Linked DNA regions of Homo sapiens: region 2 is linked to region 1. The links come from fine-mapping of genetic effects on gene expression. Tissue or cell type: whole blood. Region 1 holds a variant in brackets; the other region holds the start of a gene. All regions are shown on one strand. Distances are between the middles of the regions.

What was found. PIP is the estimated chance that this variant, and not a neighbour inherited with it, causes the effect.
Region 2: it holds the start of TIGD3, and the variant in region 1 is fine-mapped to the expression of TIGD3 in whole blood (TOPMed, PIP above 0.99).

Annotation. Positions count from the first base shown.
Region 1 is chr11:65,303,832-65,311,930 of GRCh38, reverse strand. LOC105369344 (a long non-coding RNA gene) reads left to right here. Exons shown (of 3, transcript XR_007062727.1): 2 at 2,724-2,918. It also overlaps a transcript of POLA2 not described here. Among named protein-coding and RNA genes, the nearest start is that of CDC42EP2, 7.0 kb to the left of the region's middle. RefSeq lists enhancers at 748-1,355, 1,356-1,963. The variant C/T (reference allele first, on the strand shown) is at 3,425.
Region 2 is chr11:65,350,108-65,358,206 of GRCh38, reverse strand. TIGD3 (tigger transposable element derived 3) reads right to left here and starts at 3,456. Exons shown (of 2, transcript NM_145719.3): 1 at 3,250-3,456; 2 at 594-2,414. The coding sequence starts at 2,398. The coding sequence ends at 983. DPF2 (double PHD fingers 2) reads right to left here. Exons shown (of 11, transcript NM_006268.5): 11 at 3,945-6,524. The coding sequence ends at 6,448. RefSeq lists silencers at 2,749-2,938, 2,999-3,168, 3,179-3,238, 3,259-3,578, 3,669-3,728.

The DNA of each region.
Region 1 (8,099 bases):
GATAGGGTTTCACCATGTTGGCCAGGCTGCTCTCAAACTCCTGACCTCAAGTGATCCACCCACCTTGGCCTCCCAAAGTGCTGGGATTATAGGCATGAGCCACCTCGCTCAGCCCCATGTTGACCTTCTAACCTATAGAACTGTAAGATCACGAATTTCTGTTGTTTTAAGCCACCTATTCCATGATAATTTGTTGTAGCAGTGATAGAAAACGAATCCAAGGAGGTTCAGGTTTTAATCTTGAGTGTGCCCTCAACTCTGCAGGGAGTATTGGTCAGGTGGATTCTGCCAGGAATGGCCTGGCAGCTTGGAGGAAAACAGGCCTGGACCATTGAGTAAGTGGCAATGATGGCCCTGGGCCAAGCTGTGGTAGGGGTGAGTAAAGGGTGTGCCTCTCCCCATTCTTGCCATGGGACTTTGCCAGGCCGCCCTGTGCCCTTTACCCATTGCTTCATGTTCCTGAATTCTTTACATCCTCCTGGGGGTGCCTAGTGACGTGGCCAGAGCCTGAATCACGATCCCCATTTTACAGATGGGAACTAAAGCTCAGGGCACCGACAGTGATTTGCTGAGCCTAGAAGTGGCAAGGCATGTGGGCTCTGGCCCCTCCTTCTCTCAGGCTTCTAACCCCACAGGCATCATTCCTGCCCATCCCCAGGACACAGCTCTCAGAGAGGAGGGGCAGCTGAGTGCCTTGAGCCCCGGCCTCTGAGCCATCAGTCAGATTCTGAGCTGTCTCTGCTGCTGCTTTGCTCTGTGGCCACAGGCAAAGGACCTTCCCTTCCAGAGTCTCCTTGCCTATAATATGGGGTAGTAGCATCAGGTCAGGCAAGTCCCAAACCAGATAAGGGATGGACATGCATGTATTTTGTTCATGGGAATACGCAGCCCCTCAGGTGGCATTGTTTCACGGACACATTAGACAAGAGCTTTGGGGCCTGGCCAGCTGGCTGTGCTGCTTGATCGGAATGGCTGTAATGATGAAGCCACCTAAGCCTGCGGGAATGAGGCTCAGGCCAAGCCCTCATCCCCTGCCCATCTGCTGAGAGTCCTCCATTGGGGGGTAGCGGTCAGGGAAGGGTCAGGCACTCCATTCAGAGCTGGGGACAAAACAGAGTTACAGGGATGGAAGATGGAGAAACAAAGCCTCTCACCCAAGGCCACACACAGCTGGGGACCAACCCCGGAGCTCTTTGAAGAAGTTCTGTGGGGGGTGGGTGATTAGGGGTCCCTCGGGTAGGGATAGAGAGCAGCAGAGCCCGCAAACCTGGTCCAAGCTCCTGCTTTCCTCCCTGAGCCTTCCAACCAGGACTAGAAATGCTATCTGCACTCTGGGGACTGTTTTCAACCCACCTGGATGTGACGTGTTCCGCCCAGTGCCAGTCCCCTTGCCGCTCAATCCACTCCTGCTGTCATTCAGAGCAGGGGGCCCGACCAAGTCCACATCGCAGGAGTGATCGGCGCCTGGCCCTGGGTTCTGCGCTGTGCAAGCATGCAGGGAGGGCGCTTCCTTCTCCCCATTCACAGATGTGGTTGTCACTTGGCTGGGGCCCAGGGGATCCCTGAGGAGGTTCTGCTGAATGGACAGGATCTTTGTGTGCACACCCAGCATCGCCATGGGAGCCCTGCCATTCATAAGGCCATGTATAAAACAGGATTTCATTTACTAAACTTGGCTTTTTTGTGCAAGTTCTCAGGCTATATGTAGGGGCCTGGGGTGTGGGTAGGGAGGCTGGAATAGCCTGAGCCACGGGGAAGCGTGGCCTGCATTTTGACCCAAGACACTCAGGCCAAGCGCTGCATCCCCCAGCCTGGACCCTAGGGTCTGATGCCTCAGCCAGGGCCTGGACTGTCCTGGACAGAAGGGCTCCTGGACACCCTGCTACCTCAGGGGCAGGATCCAAAAGGGCATCTGGGGCTGGATGTGGTGGCTCACACCTGTCATCCCAGCACTTTGGGAGGCTGAGGTGGGCGGATCAACTGAGGTCAGGAGTTCGAGACCAGCCTGGTCAACATGGTGAAACCCCGTCTCTACTAAAAATACAAAAATTAGCCAGGCGTGGTGGCACACGCCTGTAGTCCCAGCTACTTGGGAGACTGAGGCAGAAGAATTGCTTGAGCCTGGGAGGCAGGGGTTGCAGTGACCAAGACTGTACCACTGCACTCTAGCCTGGGTGACACAGCAAGACTCCATCTCAAAAAAAAAAAAAAAAGGCCGGGCGCGGTGGCTCACGCCTATAATCCCAGCACCTTGGGAGGCTGAGGCAGGCCGATCACGAGGTGAGGAGATTGAGATCATCCTGGCTAACACGGTGAAACCCCGTCTCTACTAAAAATACAAAAAATTAGCCTGGCATGGTGGCGGGTGCCTGTAGTCCCAGCTACTTGGGAGGCTGAGGCAGGAGAATGGCATGAACCCAGGAGGCGGAGCTTGCAGTGAGCTGAGATCACGCCACTGCCCTCCAGCTTGGGCGACAGTGCGCGACTCCGTCTAAGAAAATAAAAATTAAAATTAAAAAAAAAACAAAAGGGCATTTGGGAGGGGCAGAGCAGGCCACGATGGAGAAACACCCAGAGCAGGGTATTTGGCTTCTGTCTCCTCAGCCTGGAGCCTCTCCCTTGTCCTGAGATGGGCCCAATAGGCTCCCCAACCAACCCCACAGCCACCTCCCCGACTGTGATCACTACACAGGGACTGACTCAGCCCTTCCTTCCCCTCCCAGCCTCTCCTTCCTGGAAATTGCCATCACCAGCGGCCATAGCACCCCCATGGGACCTGGGGGATGGAGTTGGAAGCCCCCTCCGGCAACACTGGCCAGATTGGAGAGACCAGCAGGGAAGCTCCCTCCTACCCCCAGGGAGGCTGAAGCCAGCTCTCCATGGGCACGAAACCTGGAACCCAGGACCCTGGGGGGCAGGTGAGATGACAGGGACTTGGGGTCTGGGAGCAGAGTCACAGGGAAGAGTGGCATCTAGGGGAGGCGCATCTTGGGGGTGCATCTAGGGGAGGTGCTAAGAAGTGACAGGGGTCTCTGGAGGTGCCCCAGTCCCTCTGCTGGGATGCAGGGTGGCAGGGAGCTGAGAAGGTGCTCAGCCACCCTCTGGAAGCTTCTGACGTCCCAGCCTAAGCTCAGCCTGCAGGGCCCTGTGGCCTGAGCCAACCCCAGACCTGGGTTGGATTTTTTCCTTGTTTCTTGCTTCCTTCCTCCCCTGGACTCCTGCCAACTCCAGCCCTGCCCTCCTCGCTCTTCACCCCACTTCAGAGAACTGTGACCCACTGGAGGCTGGGATTTGAGATGAGAGGTCACCCTCGGAGTTGGCTCCAGCTGCTGCCTCTGCCTGGGACCCCTCCTTGGGAGTTGGGTGGCAGGGCCTTGCTGGGGGCACTTCCCTTCGCATCTGGATTTTGGCCTCGGGCCCAGGG[C/T]TATGGGGGTTTCCAGAGTGGTGACAGCCTTGTCCTAGCAGGGACCAGCCCAAGCACTTCCTCCCAGAGCCCTCTGGGAGCGTCCCAGCCCCAAGGCTGTCATTTTGTCGTAGGGAGTAAATTGTGGAGTCAGCAGAGGCTGTCTTCCACACTTTCTGTGCCTTCCAGGTATCCTGTCATTCCTCATTCTGAAAACCTAGGCTTGCATCTCTCTTGTGCCTAGGGCTATGCTGGACTAGAGAAGACACAGGTGGCCAAAGCTGGACCCAGCCCTCAGGGAACAGATAACCTGCGTGAGAAACAAATAATTGATTCTGCCCTTTATCCCTCCCGGGCCAGCACGGAGGGGTTCAGCCAATGACTGGGAATTGAATGAAAAACCAAAGAGAACAGCCATGAGATCTGTCTGCTATGGGTGGGAAAGCAGATGGGAGAGTGAGAAGGGCTTCAAGGAGAAGGTGATATGTGAACAGGGCATAAATGGATGAATAGGAGTTTGCCAGGCACAGAAAGGGAAGGACATTCCAGGGGAAGCAGGCAGAGGCCTGGCAAGGCAAAGGCCAGGAGGATTGCAAGTAAAGTCATGGTATGAGCAGAAAACAAGAGAGGTCCAGTTGCCCATGGCATAGGAGAGGGGACAGGCCAAGAGGGTAGTGGGTAAGCACTGTTTTCCCTGCCCAGCATCCATCTCTCACTCTGGTGACTGTCCCTCAGTTTTCTAGTCTCCAGTGTGACTGGCCCCCAACCCTCAAGCTCTAAAAGTGGGTTTGAGTCCTGTGCCTAGCCAGTCTGAGTCATGGGAATGGCTCCAGCATATGACATCAGAGAGCATCAGCCCAGGAACTTGATGGGACTGTTAGGGTCACAAATGTCAAGATGCCAGCCCAGAGCTGCTGGTGGCCAGCTCTGCCACCCTAAGGGGGGAGCCTGCCTAAGAATAAGGCCAACATAGAAGAAAACAGCACCAAGAGAATGAATCTCAATGACATTGCCTGTGCTCCTGGATCCAGTCATGCCTGAAGCAGTTTCTATTCTACGAGCCAACAAATTCCAGTTTTGGCTTAATACAGTTAGGGTTGGGTCTGTCACTTGCCACTGAGAATGAAGGGCCCATTGCAGAATAGCTAAAGGCAGGTGATCACTCATGAGAGTTGCCGAGTGCTGTGGGAAAGGCAACGATGATCTGTGTGTAGAGGTACAACACCATCAGAACTGCATTTTCTTTCATTTAAATTACTTTTTGAGGCCGGGTGCGGTGGCTCACGCCTGTAATCCCAGCACTTTGGGAGGCCAAGGCGGGTGGATCAGCTGAGGTTAGGAGTTCGAGACCAGCCTGGGGAACATGGTGAAAACCCGTCTCTACTAAAAATACAAAAATTAGCGAGGCGTGGTGGCACGTGCCTGTAGTCGCAGCTACTCAGGAGGCTGAGGCAGGAGAATCACTTGAGCCTGGGAGGCGGAGGTTGCAGTGAGCCAAGATTGTGCCACTGCACTCCAGCCTAGGCGACAGAGTGAGACTCTGTCTCAAAATAATAAAATAATAATAATAATAATAATAATTACTTTTTGATTAGGTAATGCTCTTTCTTTTCTTTTTCTTTCTTTGAGATAGGGTCTTGCTGTATCGCTGGAATGCAGCGGCGTGATCACTGCTCACTGCAGCCTCAACTTCCTGGGCCCAAGCAATCCTCCTGAGTAGCTGTGACCACAGGCACATGCCATTTGCTAATCTTTGTATTTTTTGTAGAGACGGGTTTTCGCCATGTTGTCCAGGCTGGTCTTGAACTCCTGGGCTCAAGCAATTCATCTGCCTCGGCCTCCCAAAGTGCTGGGGTTATAAGGGTGAGCCAAAGCGCCTGGCTGAGGTAATGCTTTCATGTGATTCAGAATTCAGAAGTTGGCTGGATATGGTGGCTCACACCTGTAATCCCAACAGTTTGGGAGGCCAAGGTAGGGGGTGGGGTGCGGATCACCTGAGGTCGGGAGTTCGAGACCAGCCTGGCCCACATGGCAAAACCTCGTCTCTCCTAAAAATACAGAAATTAGCCAGGCATGGTGGTGGGTGCCTGTAATCCCAGCTACTCAGGAGGCTGAGGCAGGAGAGTCGCTTGAACCTGGGAGGCGAAGGTTGTGGTGAGCCAAGATCACACCACTGTACTGGGTGCCTGAGCGACAGAGTGAAACTCCATCTCAAAAAGAAAAAAAAAAGAAAGAAAGAAAAAGAAATTCTGAAGTCCTAAGAGGCAAGAAGTCTCATCCCTGTCCCCCAGGGACAGTTCTCCATTCTGCTATAGCCAACTGGTGTTATCAGTTTCTTGTAAACACTTCTAGGGATATTCTTGCATGAACGAGCAGGGCCCCTCTCATTTTTTTTTTTTTTAACACAAATGTCAATATTTAGACAAGTAGAGTTCCAAAGTACTGCAGGCCCTGGTGGTAGCTGGCGGAGGGCCGTCCTGCTCGGGACTGTGAGAAGCCCTTTCATTGAGCCTCTGCTGTTCATGCTGTTTGACACCTTGCGTTTTCCAGTTAACGTTATATTTTGGAGACCACTCTACATCAATACATAGAGTGTGTCCTCATTTTCACAGCTGCACGGTATTCCAGCACAAGGATGTATGGTAATTTACAGATGCACTTCTTGGCAGAGGGACCTTCAGGTTGCTTCCAGCCCTTTCTCAAGACAGGCCGTGCCGCAGTGAGTCATCTGTACAAAAGCCCTTTCACACATGCACGAGCGCTGCTGCGGAATACATTCCCAGAAGGGACTTGGGAGGACTGGGGGGCAAAAGATACATGCAGTGGTGTCTTATTATTGTTATTTTAGAGACAGGGTCCTGCTCTGTCACCCAGGCTGGAGTACAATGTACAATGGTGTCATCATAGCTGACTGCAGCCTCGACCTCCTGGGCTTAAGCCATCCTCCCGCCTTGGCCTCCTGCGTGGCTGGGACTACAGGCACGCACCACCGTGCCCAGCTTGCAGTGGTCATTTTGTCAGCTCTGTCAGCTTGTCCTTCTTGGAGACTGTGCCAGGTACCAGGCCCCCACACAGTCAACAGGGCTGTTTCTCCTCAGGCTCACCAGCCCCTGGTTTCCACCTATTTTGATTTTTGTCCATCTGAAAGGCAAAAACTAAACAAAACAAAGGAATTTGGGTGTAGTTAGAGTTTGCGTTTCTCTTACGATGCGTGAGGCTGGTCACCTTTTCATTTGCTTAAGAGCCACATGTGTTTCTTTTTGGTGAATGAACTGCAGAATTTCTGCAGAGGTGGTGCCGGGCAGCTTTGGAGAGGGGGGCCTGGAGGGAGGCCAGACTAGAGGCAGAGGCCACTTCTGGGGACAGTTAGCGTAGAAGGGAGAGAAAATTTGGTCCTGAAGAGTGGTGTGAGAGCTGGAGATGGAGATGATGAAGTTGAAAGGCTGAGATTAGGTGATAGGTTAGCCCCCATGGAGGGCCATGGAGGAAGAAGGGGGAGTCAGGCCCAGTCCAGGCTTACAACTTGGGTGACAGGGTGGGGGTGGGGGGAGAATGGAGCCCGCAAGGGTTTTGGGGGCCAGGATGATGTGCTGCCTGCCTATTCTCCACACCACATGGTGATAGACAAAAACACCACTCTGACTGCCACGTGCCCTGTTCGTGTGCTGCCATGGTCACAAACCTGCAGCAGGGCCCCTGCTAGCCTCTTCAGCCTCCAGCCAGTGCTCCATGCCTGCTGCCCTGAACATGTGCCTGTCAGCTGTCGGCGGTGCCCAGCCTCCAGGGCTAGGTCCCTGCACATGCTCCTCCATGAGCCCTGCGATTTGCTCCCTCCACCTCACCTGGCCACCCCCATGCCTCCCGTGGCTCTCAGCTGTGATGTCTCCCCTCAGGGAAGCTTTCTGGACCCCCATTGATGTTGGGTCACCTTGTGATACCGTGGGAAACTCTGGACCATGGACCTCTCCGTGGCGTTGTCATTTGGTTCATGTCCATTTTCCATTGGATCATAGCCAGTCCCCCAGAGTGTGTGCCATGTGGTAGGCACCCAGTGAATATGGATGAGTGGATGGATGGGTGGGTGGGTGGATGGTTGGGTGGATGGGTGGGTTGATGGGTGGGTTGATGGATGGATGAAAAGATGGATGGTTAAGTTCATGGGTGGGTGGATGGATGAATGGATGGATGGTTAAGTCTATGGATGGATGGATGAGTGGGTGGGTGGGTGGATGGAAGGATGGATGGATGGAAGAAAGGATGGATGGTTACGTGGATGGATAGATAGATGGGTGGGTGGGTAGATGAATGGATGGACGGATGGATGGAAGAATGGATGGTTAGGTAAATGGATGGGTGGACGGATGGGTGGATGGTAGGATGCCGGGGATAGCAAGAAGAGGGTGTATGGGAGACACATGTTTAGGAAATAAAAGTTGGGAGCTGGTGACCCCTCCTCTGTGCAGCACCCACCACAACTCCAGGCACCTCTGCCCTTGGCCTGCTCTGGTTTTCTCCATCTGACACACTTGACTCCATCTGATGCTCTGCAGTGTCCACTGTTTACAGGTTTCTGTGCTGGAGTGGCAGCTCTGGGTGGCAGCAGAGATTCTGTCCACTCATTCATTTCTGCATCCCGCTGCCGAGGAGAGACCCCCAACCTGCAGGGCCCTTAGCAGGTGTTGTGCTGTCCCTGCAG
Region 2 (8,099 bases), 46 kb before region 1:
CTCTGCACACGCTGTCCCTTGGCCTGGGACGCCCTTCAAACTGCAGCTCAAAGCTCACCTCCCCCTGGAGTCTCCCTAGCTCTATGGGGCCAGGCACTTTGCACAGCCGTTATCACAGCCTTAATCACACTCCACTGTCATTGGCTGCAAGGTTCTGTCCAGAAGAGACATCATCTTTGCAACCTTGTTCACATAGGAGGTCTTGCTGAAGTGATGTTGTGAAATAAGCAAATGAAAAAAAAAAAAGAAAGAATGAATGACTATTCCATTCCAATTCCGGCTCCTTTCTGTTTCCCTGACATGTCCGTAGCCTGCCCAACCCCAAACACACACAATCTGAGAGCGAAACTATTGGAGCTGCAGCTTATCTGGGGCAGTAGCTGGGATCTGTCTGTCCTGGAGCTTCCCTCTCAGGAGGGTAGCCCACAAGCAGTGCCCACACCCTGAGAGTCCTTGCTGCTGAATATCTGGAAAAGGAGGATCCCTACTGGTCATGGACAGACAGCTGCACCGCAGTGACCATCAGCAATTAATTTTCCAAATCTGAATGGAAAATGTTTACCCTTCTCCCATGAAAATAACACCCTGGCCTCTTTTCTGATTAAAAACTTTATTTTCAGAAGCAGAACTGTTTTTAACACAAAGTTCAAGGAAGCAGTCTGTCCAAAAAGCCCAAATTCCACCTTTCTAAGTGGCTGCCTCTAGACTAACTCCCTTTCAAAGGCTCTAGAACTTTCAAGCAGGGTCTAGAAACTAAGCATCCTGGATTCCTACCCCCGAAGCCCCATCTTTAGAGCTCTCTTCCTGGGGTTTGGACGACTGCCACTCCAAGCTCAGACTTGGTGTCCCAACTTCTCTCCCTTCTACACCTTTACGACAGTTCTATTTCCACAGGAAAGAGACAGCCCGATCTGCCTTCTGAAGAGGCCGTTTCCATGGGAAACAAGAGAGGAAGGGGCTCTGGCAAGCAGTGAAGGCGCCTTCATAGGCAGCAAAGCCGCTCCACCTCCTCCTCACAGTCGTAGAATTTTTCGAATAGCTCAGGAGAAGTGCTGTTGCATTCAAACCACCTCCTCAAGGTGCCCAGGGCCCGGAGGGCATCAGCTTTGGTGGGCAGGGGCTCAAAGGCACCCTCTCTGTCCCCCTTCTCGTCTTCAGTGCCTATCTCCTCCTTACATACTCCAGACCTTGGCTCCTCACCCTCCAGGTCCACAAAGCGGGAAAACTCCTCCAGGCTCAGCCCGCCGGGGACTGGTGGCATCTCAGAGGTTTTGTGCGAGGACGGGGGCGTTTTGCCGGGAGCCAGCCCTTCTTGAATGAAGCTGCTGAAAATGAGCTGAGGAGGCACCTTGGCCCAGGCGGCAGACGCCACGTGCAGGGCGTCCAGCACGGTGATGCCTGCCCCGGCCTCGGCCAGCGAGGTGCCATCCCTCTCGCTTTGGATGGCAGCCAGTTTGCCCAACAGCCGGTGTCGGTAATGGGCCTTAAAGGCCCGGACCACTGAGCTGGGCAGGGGAGGCGTGGTGCTAGAGGCGGCCAGAGGCAAGAGCTTCACGTGGTAGAGCCCAGGCAGGCCTGCCAGCTCCTCCACCACTCGGGCAGCCAGCAGCAAAGCCACCTGTCGGCCCTGCTGTCCCATGTCCCGGTCAAACTGTGCCAACCACTCTAACCAGGGGATGCCCAGGTCCGGGTGGTAGGAGGCAGGCAGAGCCTCACTGCGGATCCCAAAGAAGCATCTCGGGGCAGCCTGGAGCCCACCCAGCAGTACCCGCCGCTTCTCGGTGCCCCTGCTGTTGGCACACAGCAGCACCTGTACTTGATCACATGCACCAAAGCTGCCGGGCACTGCCCGATACAGCAAGGGCAATTCAGCACAGCCAAACACGTCCTCTGGAGAGAAGTCTTTTAGGGAAAGAGGCAGCTGAGCCTGGGATGTGAGCCCCGGGGGAGGTGGCTCAGGGGGGAATGAAGGCGCAAGAACATGGCGGGCCCCAAAGCCGACGTTGTTTCGGCGTTTCCAGCGGACCAGCCAGCCGATGCTGGGCACGAAGTCCTGGCCCATGATATCGGCCAGCTCCTTGGCTTTGTGGAGCAGCATGGGCCCCGTCACGTCCCAGGCCTTGGCCCGGGCAATGTGGTACCAGCAGAGCAGAGCCTCGTCGATCCCGCTGTACTTGGACTCCCGCTTGCGCTTGCGCTCTCGGTTGGCTGTGCCGCTGCACCAGTCCGCCAGCAGCTTCTCCTTATTCTTGCAGATGCGCGAGATCTGGGGCTGGGAAACCTGGAAGCGCCGGGCCACCTCCGACTGGGACATCTTGGACTCATCCAGGAGTTCCAGCACCTGGATCTTCTCGGCCAGGGACAGGGCGTGAAGCTTCTTCTTGCTGCTCAGCTCCATGGCCTCTCCGGGGCACCTGTGCGGGGAGGAAAGATTGAGCGGGTAGAGTAATCTGAGGCCGGAAGAGCTAGGAAAGGAGCGCAGGAGGGAAAAGAGATTAGATGAGGACTTGCGCAGGCACCGGGTGAGACTGGACCCGCTGAAAGAGGAAGTGGCTAGGCCGAGTGGAAGCCGGCTGGCCCCGTCCCCAGGATGCCAGGGCAGAGCTGGGGAGGGGGCGTCTCTCCACTCAGAAGGACAGGGGAGTCTGGGCTGGGGTCTGGCCTCACTCGGGAAGAAGGATGAAAAGTGCAGGGGACAGCTGCAGAGATAACAAAGGCATACGGACGGGGGAGGGCCTGGGACTGGGGCCGAGGGGGCAGGTGTGGGGCTACGGGGCTGCGGGGGAGGAGCCCCCGGGAGGGAGTGGGAGGCGGCTTGGGCTGGATTCAGATGACGCCGCTGGGGGGTGGGAGGTGGGTGGATGCACACAGAGTTGAGGTGACAGGTGTACAGACGACAAAGGGGACAGAGGGTGTCTGAAGGAGCGAGGCTAATTTGGTGCCGGGTCCTGAGAGGGAGGCTAGGCGACGGTCAGTCCTGAGGGGAGCGAGAGGGCAGGGCCGAGGGCGCAGGTGCACGAGCGACAAAGGGCGGGAGGCCTGAGGAGGCTGCGGGCAGCGGAGGGGCGGGGTGTCCCCGCGGGGAGGGTGGTGGCCTGGGAGGGTCCCAGGGCGCGGGAACGAACGCCCGGACCCAGGCAGGCCGGCAGCCGGACTCCGTGCCCTGGCCGGTCACTCCCCCTCGACCCGGAGTATGTCGGCGGGGCGGCCCCAGGCGCCCGCCCGCCCGGCCTCCCGCTCCGCACCCACCTCAGGCGCTGGTCCCGCGGCTCCAGCCCCTGCCCCCAGCCCGGCTCCCGAGCCCCTGTCCGGGCGGCGACAGCAGAACAGGGGAGGGATGGGCGCCACGACCCCGAGGGCAGAGCGGACCGAGGGCCTGCGCGGACGGCGGGCGGGCGGGCGCGCGCACAGCAGAGTCCCGTGCGCGCCGCCCGCGCCGGGCTCTCTCCCGGCTGCGAAGTCCGCGGTGCGGCCCCTCTGCACCCACCCGCCGCAGCCCCGCCCCGGCCCAAGCAGATTGGTCCTCAGTGGCGCCCCGTCCCTCCCCCGGCTAAGTTTCATTGGACGTTGCGGAAGTGGCGGTTCGTCGAGCCCCTCTGGGGGCGGGGCTTCTAGCGCGGAGGGGCGGGAGGCGGAGCCAGGAACCAGCAGGACTCCCCTGGGCGCCTCCAGCAGCCGCCGACCCCGAGGGCCCGACGAGCCCTGTAGGTGGTGTGGTGACCGCCGAGCTGACTTGGCGTCCCAAAGCCTCCCTGGCCGTGACCCTAGACCGCATCGGCTTCTTCGTCTACCAAGCAGGGCTAACAGCCCTCACGGAATTGTTTTGGGAAAACGATGAAAGGAGAAAATGGATGCAAGCTTTAAGCCACACAAAAGCTGGTTACCATGGACAGCGCTGGCTCGAGTCTGTCGGCCACGGAAACACTGCATGCTTGGGCCAGTAATGATTTAGGACGAGTATTTTATTAGATTTGGTACTTTACAAGATTCAAGTTCTTAAACTCAAGATCTGGCATCGTTCCCTTCCCTGCTAACCTTCAGTCCCGAATTAAACGCAGACGTCTTGACCCGCAGCCCAGCTGCTCTCCAGCCTCGCTGCTCCCTCCGCTCACAGCTCCGCATCCTCTGCCTTCCTCACAGGCTTCCGTCCGCACCCCCGTCCTACCGGCTGACACTGTCCAACTCTCCAAGACCCATCTCAAATCCTACCTCCCGCAAACCCTTCCTAAATTTCCTCACCTAGGCCTGCTACAGCGTTCTTATTTTCCACATTTCTTTTCTGGCTCTCGGACTACTCAGCTGCCAAAGCGCATCCATTGCTGTACTCCCTCTCTGCCTGGCCTACTTCAGTGGAAAAGCATGAGGACGGGCTGCGCTCTGCTCCTCACACAATCCCCAGCCCAGAGCACCCTGCTTATTTATTGAACATAACAGTGCAGGCCGGCCTAGGCTTCCCATAGGCAAGGATGACTTTCAGAATGTTCTAGAAAAAAGGATACTTCAGGGGGCCCATAACTGCTTGATTCAAATCTTTCCTTTAAAAACATAAAAACAACAGTTGGACTTCTAAAACACACACTGAAGACATACGCGCTGCCACGTAAGCTCTCCACATGTTCACTTTGCCTTCAGGGAAACTGTGTGCACATCAACGTGCCCTGGGAAAGGCTGCAGGGCTGCACTGCGGGCAGTTCAGATCCTAGAGCACTTGCTCTGGCCTGGGAGCGCTGCAGGCAACTGAAGCCACACAGACCCTGCTCCTGCAAGAACTTTTGTGTGTGTCCCATGGTGATGTCATTAGTTTGCTTATTAATTATATTTATATAAACTTCTGGTCCTGTTTTAAATGTCTGAGATTGCAAGGTCAACTGTTATAAACCTGTCATCACTTCCATCTATGTATCCAAGACTAGGAGAATTCTCCAAATCAACTGAAACATAAAAATAGATGTTAAAGTTGATTTTAACCCAAATTTTGTATTGATCAAAACAGCTTCATTGTTCTTTATAACAAAGAATTGTTATAAACTTGAATTTATGTAACAAAACAAAATAACCAATTTTATATTCGCTTTACATATTGGGGTTCCACAAAAAAATTTTAATTTGGGGGGAAAAAAGCTGTATTTCAAAACATTAAAAAAAAAAACCACCATCATGGAAATCTTAGGATGAAATGGCCTTCTTAATGGAGAAAGGCAGGAGATAAACCATCCAGCAGAGGGCTCTGTGTAAAAACATTTATTTTTACTAATGTTTAGAATACAGGAACTAAAGAAAGAAAAAAAAAAGACACCTCAACTCCAAAGCGACAGTGAGTTAGGGCCTGCCCACGGCCAAGGGGGAAGGCTACTCCAGGGTGTCCTGGCATGGACTGTCCCCCCACTACTTAATGTCAGTGCCACTAAGCAGAAAACTTGAGGAATCAGGGTGTGAAGACCTTACCAGCTGCTAGCGAGCGTGCAAGGGAAGAAAGGGATGTCTATGTGGCTTCCCCATGAGCTGAGAGCCAGGATACACGGGGCAGGTGGCAGAGGCTCCCAATTCAGTTAAGAGCAGGAGGCTGAATGCCCAGGTCCAGGAAGAACAAAAAGGGGATTTTGGAGGTAGGCTTTTTTGTTGTGTTAAAAAACAGGCACATTATCCATCTCCTTGTGGCCCCCGAGCTGCTGGCCTGGCCCCCTGATCCTTCCCCTCTCCCCACAAAACCAAAAGGAGTAGGAAGGGAGGCAGAAGATGAGAAATTCCAAGGGTGGGGAATGCTTCAGTCACTGGAGACCGACCGTAAGAGTGAGCCAGGAGAGCAATGGGAATAACAAGGTGAAGCTACTGTTCCCCCTGGGGTGGGGTGGAATGGGACAGGGCAGAACCAGGAGGGTGACCGAGAACATCCTGACTCCAGAAAAGAACACTCTGTAGCAGGAACACAGGGCCGCAGAGAGCCACTCTGGAGGAAAGAGGTGAGGCTATGCGGCACAGGGGCATGAAAAGCTCCTTGTGGACGTGGCCTCAGCTTGCTCGCTCCCAGCTCCCTGGCCTGGCTTGCCTCTAGAGGACAGGAAAACTCTGGAGACCAGAGGGGAGGCAGAACACAGAGAAGTGAGCTGCTCTCCCACTCTTTCTAGGAGGACACTGTTTGAACCCTGTGATCACCAGGGGCTGGGCCCAAGGCAAGCAGAGTGAATGCACTTAATGGAGAGCAGAGAGAAACTGGGCCACACGCACGCCTAGGGGCAGTGTGTTGCTCCTTTCTCCCTGAGGGCCTGGGGCCAGAGGTGGTCAGAGCTGCCACCTCAGCTTGCAGCTGCCAAAGGCAGGCTGGCACAACCACCCCAAGGTTCTCTGGATTTGTGAAGGAGAGGAGGAAGAAGGGAAAGATGGGTATGAAATATGAAGTGGAGGAGAGAAACAGCCTTAGATATGTCGGGGAGCAGGTGGGTGGCCACATCAAGAGGAGTTCTGGTTCTGGTAGATGGAAGCTTTCTCTTTCAACAGGTCCAGACACAGGTGGCAGCTCCAACTTCCTGCAGAGAGGCAAAATGGGGTCAGGATGGGTCCCACACAATCCCCACCTGCTTGCAATTCCTCTGCTCTTGATACCCCATCTCTATAGCAGGATCAGCTACAGGTAGGACGAGGGATGCTCTGCAGCAGGAAAGTTCCATGGTTTCCTGAGCTGGGATAAACCTCTAAGTCTTCAAATATTATGAAATATCATCCTCTATGGAGATGAAAGAAATAATCATCTAGAGGACTTCAGAATACTGATGCCCAGGCCCTCTTGGCCCTATTAAATCAGAAGTTTTGGGAGTAGGAAGAGGGCCTGGGAAGACAGAAGTTTGTCAAGCACCTCAGTTTTAAGACTTGTGTAGTTTCACTAAAAAACACAAAATAATTGTCCCTTATATGAAAAACAATTGGGTCATTCCTTGTTTATTAATATTGACTATGGCTGAATTCTTCTAATTTTTTTTGAATAAAATTAGTCCTTAATGCCTTGAAATGATAAGCAAAATTATACCTATGCGCATTTGGACATTATTCTAGGGCTTTTATCAGCTCTTCAGAAACAGGTGACTCAAAAATGTAAGTCCTTTCTAACCCAAAGGTCAATACGGTTGGCAAAGTTTTCTGTAAAGAGCCAGAGTGTTAAATATTTTAGGGTGTGTGAGCCACATACAGTCTCATGCATTTTTTTTTTAACTCCCTTTATTTTTTTTTTTTCTGAGACAAGAGTTTCCGCTCTGTTGCTCAGGCTGGAGTACAGCAGTGTGATCTCAGCTTACTCTAACCTCTGCCTCCCAGATTCAAGCAATTCTCTTGCCTCAGCCTCTATAGTAGCTGAGATTACAAGCGCACAGCACCACGCCCAGCTAATTTCTCTATTTTTAGTAAAGATGGGGTTTTGCCATGCTGCCCAGGCTGGTCTTGAACCCCTGGGCTCAAGAGATCCCAAAGTGCTGGGATTACAGATGCGAGCCACAGTGCACAGCCAGTTTTTATATTTTTAAGGGGATTTTCTTCAGGCTAGATGCAGTGGTTCACACCTGTAATCCCAGCACTTTGGGAAGCTGAGGTGGGTGGATCACTTGAGCCCAGGAGTTCGAGACCAGCCTGGGCACCATGGCAAAACCCCGTCTCTACTAAAAATACAAAAATTAGCCGGGTGTGGTGGCATGCCTGTAGTCCCAGGTACTCAGGAGGCTGAGGTGGGAGGATTACCAGATTACCTGAGCCCGGGGAAGCAGAGGTTGCAGTGAGCTGAGATCATGCCACTCCACTCCAACATGGGCAACAGAACAAGACACTGTCTCAAAAAAAAAAAAAAAAAAGAAAGAAAGAAAAAGAAAAAGAGAAAAGAAAAGAAAACAAAACAGCTTGCAAGCTATTTAAGCTGGCTGTGGCTGGATGTGGTCCATAGGTTTTAGCTTGTAGCTTGCTGACCCTGACCTAGAACATCTGATACTTCTAGGGGTTGCCCCTCAGCTGCCTTAACACTACAGTGAGGACACTCGGGCCTGCAGCTCTCCACTACCTCGATGTCCCACAGAACTTTAATAGGAAAGCCATTCTGTAACATAGATCATCTGTTTGATGGT